Homo sapiens: one gene and its partner. The protein of the gene in region 1 purifies or fractionates together with the protein of each later gene. This does not show direct contact. Each region holds a gene or a part of one and is shown on either strand. Other genes may lie near its edges.

Region 1 (3,500 bases):
GAATAATAGTTTTTCTGGGTCCTTCATTATGTTGCAGAACTGCTGAACCAATGCTGGGTCCGCCCACCCTAGCCTACTTGTTAGGTACTGAAGATTCTTGTGGTTTAGCCAATGTTAGTTGGGTTTTCTCTTATAGGCAGTCAAATCATCTTAACGAATGTCTCTCAGGCCTGGCTGAGAGTCTTGAAAACATGTCAAGGACCTGGTTCAGCCCTGAATCAATGAACTCAAAGCCTCAGGGCTGGGACCCAGGGAATGCAATGCTAGAGGCTTCTCTGGTGATGTTAGTGTGTGGCCAGAGTTGAGAACCCCTGCTCAATGAGATTAATATGTCAGGTGGCCAGTCTGTGGTCCACACTAGAGGAGGGGAAGGGTCATGACCTCACAATCATTTTATGCCCGATGCTTGGAGTGCTGTTATTTACAGCAGTAGCAGCAGTTTTATTTATTGTGAAAGGAGCCCAGGACAGGGAACCAAGGGACTTGGGTTTCTGTCCCAAGTCAGCCATGAGCGCCTCTCTTCCTCTCTTGTGTCCTCAGTTTTTCCATCTGTTAAATGGCAGGGTAGACTAGAGCCTGTCCTCTGGCCCTTGTACTGGCAGGAGGTACCTGTGCAGCTGGGTGGAGCCCCCATCTCCAGCTGGCCCAGGCCTGGCTTCCCACTCCTTTGTTGCTTCTCTGAGGCTGGGGTCCCTGCCAGGTCTGAGTTGGCCCAGGTCTGCCTTCAGTGGCGGGGGGAAGGGGCTCTGCCCAGTGAGGTATGACACCCTTCTCTTCTCTAAAGCTGGTCTGGCTTTACATACCCCACCGCCTGGTGCAAGGTAGGGGCTCAGTGCACATGGTGCTGAACTAGCAGGAAGTGCTGGTGCCCAGGACCTGGCCTGGCATCCTGGTGCCACCATCTAAAGGTGTCTGCTCAAAGCCAGGGCACAAGGGGGAAGAGCACTGCACTAAGAGTCATAGGCTGAGCTATAATTGCCCTGCTAAGGCCAAAGTGCTTTGTGACCTCAGCTAAGTCCCTGTCCTACTCTGGGCCTCAGTTTCCTCATTGCAAAAGGACGATTTGGGGCTGGAAGTTTTCCGCAGATTTTTCAGTTCTAAAGAGTCTGCAACTCAGCGAGACGTTTGGTTTGGCTCTGTGCTATTAAACCTCAAATTCTCTGTCCCTGGGGATCCCCTATGGCCGTGTCGACAAAAAGAGGTTAGTATTGGCCATGGGGGAACAGAAAACCCGGGGGGAGTGGAGGGATCTTGAGTCTGGAGGTCAGGACCCCTAAGTCTACTTTCAATTCTGCAACTTACTAGCTATATGACCTGGGGCAGGTCACTTCCCCTTTTCTGGGCCTCAGTTCCTTTATTAATAAAAATGGGAAGGAGATAAGCTACTTCGCTATGCTGTAGAAGCATATGTGAGCTAAGATGTGTAGGCAGCTTGTAAGGGGTAACATGATTATTTCGTGGGGACCCCTCATCATCTCCAGGCAGCTGCTGGCCCTGCAGCCTGGTATGGGCCAGAGACTCATAGACAGCACATGGCTGCAGTGGCCCTTCCCTGACCATGTGCCTTCCTGGAGGCGAAGGCAGCCAGGTAATGGTCACCCAGAATCACCAATCCCGAAGCTAATTCCAGACTTACCAGGCCCTTCCCAAGCCTCTCCCATGGGTTGACACCACTCAGAGACTTTACATTGGCCAATTATCCATGTCATTACCTCACACAGCCCTGGAAGGTAGGAAGATTTTCACTGAATTAACTTAATTCCTCTACAGCCCCTCTCCTTCCAAAAGGACCCTGATGCGCATACGTTATTGGTCCCATTCTACAGATGAGGCAGGTAAGGTTTAGAGCGGGAGGGGAAGGGTTTATAGGAGGAGAGACATATAGAAAGCTGGGATTTGAAGCCTGATCTTCCAACCTCAAATCCAATGCTCTTTCTGGCAATTCCAGGAACACTGACCCAAGCAACTGACACACACATGGGTTTGGAGCAGATCTGTCCTCATCCAGCTGCAGCCAGCTATCCTCCCAGCTGCCCAGCACCCCCTGGCCTATATCTGTGCCCTGGGCACCATACCAGCCTCTTTGCCTGCTGCATGGAGGGTACACGCAGAGGGAGGAGAAGGGTTTAACCTTGACAGGACCTTGAGAAAGTCTACTCCTTGGACTACCTGCTAGAGGCCTGTCTCCCTAGAAAGTCTGGAAACTTCTGAGGAGCAGGACTATGTCATACTCGTAACCCCAGGACCTAACCCAAGGCTGGGTACACAAAAGGTATTTAATAAATGCTAGATGGACAGGTGAATGATAGGACCACAACAGTGCTCAAACCCTTGGAAGCACAGCTGTTATGGAGTTTACTTGAGAGAGAGGGACTCTGCCTTTGAAGAGGCAAATTTCCTACCCCACTGTGGACCCACATATCTCTTGCTTTTCCCACTGAGGTCCTCAGCCTTCAAGGGTTCTTGGGTAAGTTACCCACCTTTATGGGTAAAATGGATAAAATGCACAAAATGGAGATATTAGCCAGTGTTATTATGGGGTTGGTGGTAGAGTCAAAAGGGTTCATGTGTGTACAGGCTCAGCTGTGGGTCTGGCTGTTAGTAAGTGTGCAATGCACGGGCCGCTTCAGGACAGGAAACTCCCTGTCCCTGAACGGATGCAGTCGTAGGCTGGTGACAGCTGTCAGGGATGCTATGGCGGCGTCTCCTGGGGGACAGGTGGTGCTGCTCAGCCCTGGCACGAGGGGGAAGTTATGAAGCAGCGTGTGGAGCCAGCCTGACTGAGTTCACATCCCAGCTTTGCTGGTTGTTAGCCGGGAGAGCCTCTGGAATAGTAGTTTCTCCATCTGTAAAATGGACAAGGTCAGAGCACCTATCTCTTGGGAGAGGGCATTGATTCGGGTGATGCCTTGCCCCTCTTTGGACCTCAGTTTCCCCTTGTCATGAAGATGCTGCCCAGCTTGATTTCTGAGACCTCTGTCTGGGGGTTGGGCGGCCTTCTGGGCCTAAGTCTTGGAGGGAGGCCAGCAGCCTCAAGGGACACTCTGGGAGGCTGATTGGAATCAAAAATAGCCCTTTCCCAAGGAAAGCAGGAGTCTAATAGGCCTTGCCCAGCCATCAGGGAGGCTTCCTGGTAGAGGGAGGGGCCAGTCCAAGGCCAGTGTGGAGCAAGGGAGGCCTGGCCCCGCAGGGCCTTCAGGAGTGCCTCTCCTGCCCTCTTTGCAGAACCCCAAACATTGGTTCTTGAGAAGCCCCATCTTTCCCCAGGTGACATCTGTAAAGTGGCTGTGACAGGGTTACTTAGGTTAATCCACGTAAATTACTCAGGCAAATCCACTCAGAGCAGTACCTGGTTCATTCACAGCCGGCTCTCTTCTAAGTTGGGCCTTAGTCTCCACATCTGTGAAATGGGAAAAGAGACATGGACCCTGGCAGGGTTATAGTGAGGACCAAAATTGCATTTAAAAAGTGGTCTTTTCCTCCTAGTACCTTCCCCTCTC
Region 2 (2,380 bases), on another chromosome or scaffold:
ACACGATTATTTAAAATGTGGCACAGAAAACAGGTACAATTTTGCTGTGCGATGTGCTGGAATTTAAAATGACTTAGTGGCTGCCACCCCATTTTTATCACCTACCAAATGCTATTCTGTGTTCCCAGAACACAGTTTGTCTCCCTGATAAACTATAGGCTCCCTGAAGGAACACTGAACCCCATTTGTTCATTAATTTGACAATAATTTATTGAGTACTATATGCCCAATGCCGTTTGGATTGCTAGGGGTACAGCGGTGAATGGAGCTCCCTAAGTGGCCTTCTGGGACTTCACATTCTATTTATCAGAGCTAATAAATAGGATAAACAAATAAAAAATGCAGTATGTTATATATGGACAGATGCAAAGTAGCAAAGTACACCAGGGAAAGGAGATAGGATAATAGGATAGCAGAAAGCTGACAGGGGACCACAGACACAGAGGGAGTGAGGAGCCAGTGAGGCAGACAGGGAGGGAACAGCATTTTGAGCAGAGGGAGGAGCAAATGTGGATGCCCTGGTGGAGCACGCTGGCTTCCCCAGGAACAGCAAGGCCAGTGCCTGTGCGGGGAGCGGGATGTGGGGGGAGAGGTCAGGAGCCTGTGGGGAGCTCACTAGTCACCATGAAGGCTCTGGCTTTTATCTGGAGTGCAACAGGAGCAGCACAGAAAGGCCATGAGTAGAGGAGTGACTGGATCTGACTTGTGTTCTCAGCAGGGACACTCTGGCTGCTACAGGAGAGCAGAGCATAGCGGGCAAAGCTCAGCAGCCAGGAGACCTGGCTTAGGTTTGTTACAGGAACCAGGCGAGAGCCGGCCCTGACTAGGGTAGCAGCAGTGGATGTGGTGACAGCAGTGTGAGCTCTGAACTTGTTTTGGAGGATCGGCTGCTGGACAGATGCTGGGCTGGAGAAAGAAGAGGATGACTGTGTGGGTGTGGTCACAGCAAACTGAAGCCTGGGGCTGCCTGTTCACTGGGAAAGGGAAGATTGTGGAGTCTAGGGGTAGGGTGCATTGGTGAGACTGGGGGTTCAGTTTCAATGTGGCGAGTTTGAGATTTTTTTTTTTTTTTGAGATGGAGTCTCGCTCTGTCGCCAGGCTGGAGTGCGGTGGCACAATGTTTGAGATCTTTTAGACACCCATGTAGAGACGCCACCTGGGCAACTGGAAAAGAGGATGGAACCAGGAAGGAGCAGCCAAGGTGGGCATTATGAGCACACACATGTCATTGAAAGCTGTGAACCTGGATGAGATCTCCCAGGGAGCGAGTACCGACACTGACCCACGGCTGCGGATACTTAAGCACGTACTCATTCACCAAACACATAAGCCGGGCCTACGCTGTGCCAGGCACTGTTCTGGTTACCGCAGATATTATAGTGCAGGACGCAAACACCCTAACCTGCAGGCCCTTACATTCTAGAAAGGGAAAGGCAGACAATGATACGACGTGTTCCAACTCTGGGAGCTGAGAGTGAGCGGCAAGAGAAACTGAGAAGGAACAGTTAGTGAGGGAAGAGGAACACCAGGCGAGCAGCTGCCTGAAAAGCCAAGGGAAGAAAGTTGTCTCCAGGAAGGAGTGAGTGATCAGCCCACCGTAACCACGAGATCATAAAGAGAAGGACCGGCCAGGTGCAGTGGCTCATGCCTGTAATCCCAGCACTTTGGGAGGCCGAGGTGGGCGGATCACCCGAGGTCAGGAGTTTGAGACTAGCCTGGCCAATAGGGTGAGACGCCATCTCTACTAATAATACAAAAAAATTAGCCAGGCGTGGTGGCGCACGCCTGTAATCCCAGCTACTCAGGAGGCTGAGGAAGGAGAATCGCTTGAACTTGGGAGGCGGAGGTTGCAGTGAGCCAAGATTGCACCACTGCACTCCAGCCTGGGCGACAAGAGCAAAACTCCATCTCCAAAAAAAAAAAAGAAAAAGAAAAACAGGCCAGGTGCAGTGGCTCACGCCTGTAATCCCAGCATTTTGGGAGGTTGAGGCGGGCAGATCACGAGGTCAGGAGATCGAGACCATCCTGGCTAACACAGTGAAACCCCGTCTCTACTAAAAATACAAAAAATTAGCCAGGTGTGGTGGTGGGCGCCTGTAGTCCCAGCTCCTTGGGAGGCTGAGGCAGAAGAATGGTGTGAACCTGGGAGGAGGCGGAGCTTGCAGTGAGCCAAGATCACGCCACTGCACTCCAGCCTGGGCGACAGAGCGAGACTCCATCTCCAAAATAAAAAAAAGAAAAACACCAGCAAGACAGAGAGGCTCCTCTTTCCATTACTTGTCAGTGGGTCATTGTGGCCCACCTCCTCTCCTGGCCTGCACACTCTCCCCATCCTCCTCTGGCAAGGTCCTCAGAAGGTTCTAGAGTCTTCCTGGACTAC

Evidence for each region. Proteins that work in one complex are often made in the same cells at the same time.
Region 2: the proteins of ASB2 (region 1) and SPINDOC purify together in Homo sapiens (affinity purification with mass spectrometry, with the first as the bait; one large-scale study listed by BioGRID). This does not show direct contact.

What each region holds. Positions count from the first base shown.
Region 1 is NC_000014.9:93,966,571-93,970,070, forward strand, and holds part of ASB2 (ankyrin repeat and SOCS box protein 2), read right to left. Parts: intron 3,401-3,500; exon of another isoform or gene 3,350-3,400; intron 1-3,349. UniProt on the Homo sapiens protein: Substrate-recognition component of a SCF-like ECS (Elongin-Cullin-SOCS-box protein) E3 ubiquitin-protein ligase complex which mediates the ubiquitination and subsequent proteasomal degradation of target proteins.
Region 2 is NC_000011.10:63,823,456-63,825,835, reverse strand, and holds part of SPINDOC (spindlin interactor and repressor of chromatin-binding protein), read right to left. Parts: exon of another isoform or gene 189-2,380; intron 1-188. UniProt on the Homo sapiens protein: Chromatin protein that stabilizes SPIN1 and enhances its association with histone H3 trimethylated at both 'Lys-4' and 'Lys-9' (H3K4me3K9me3).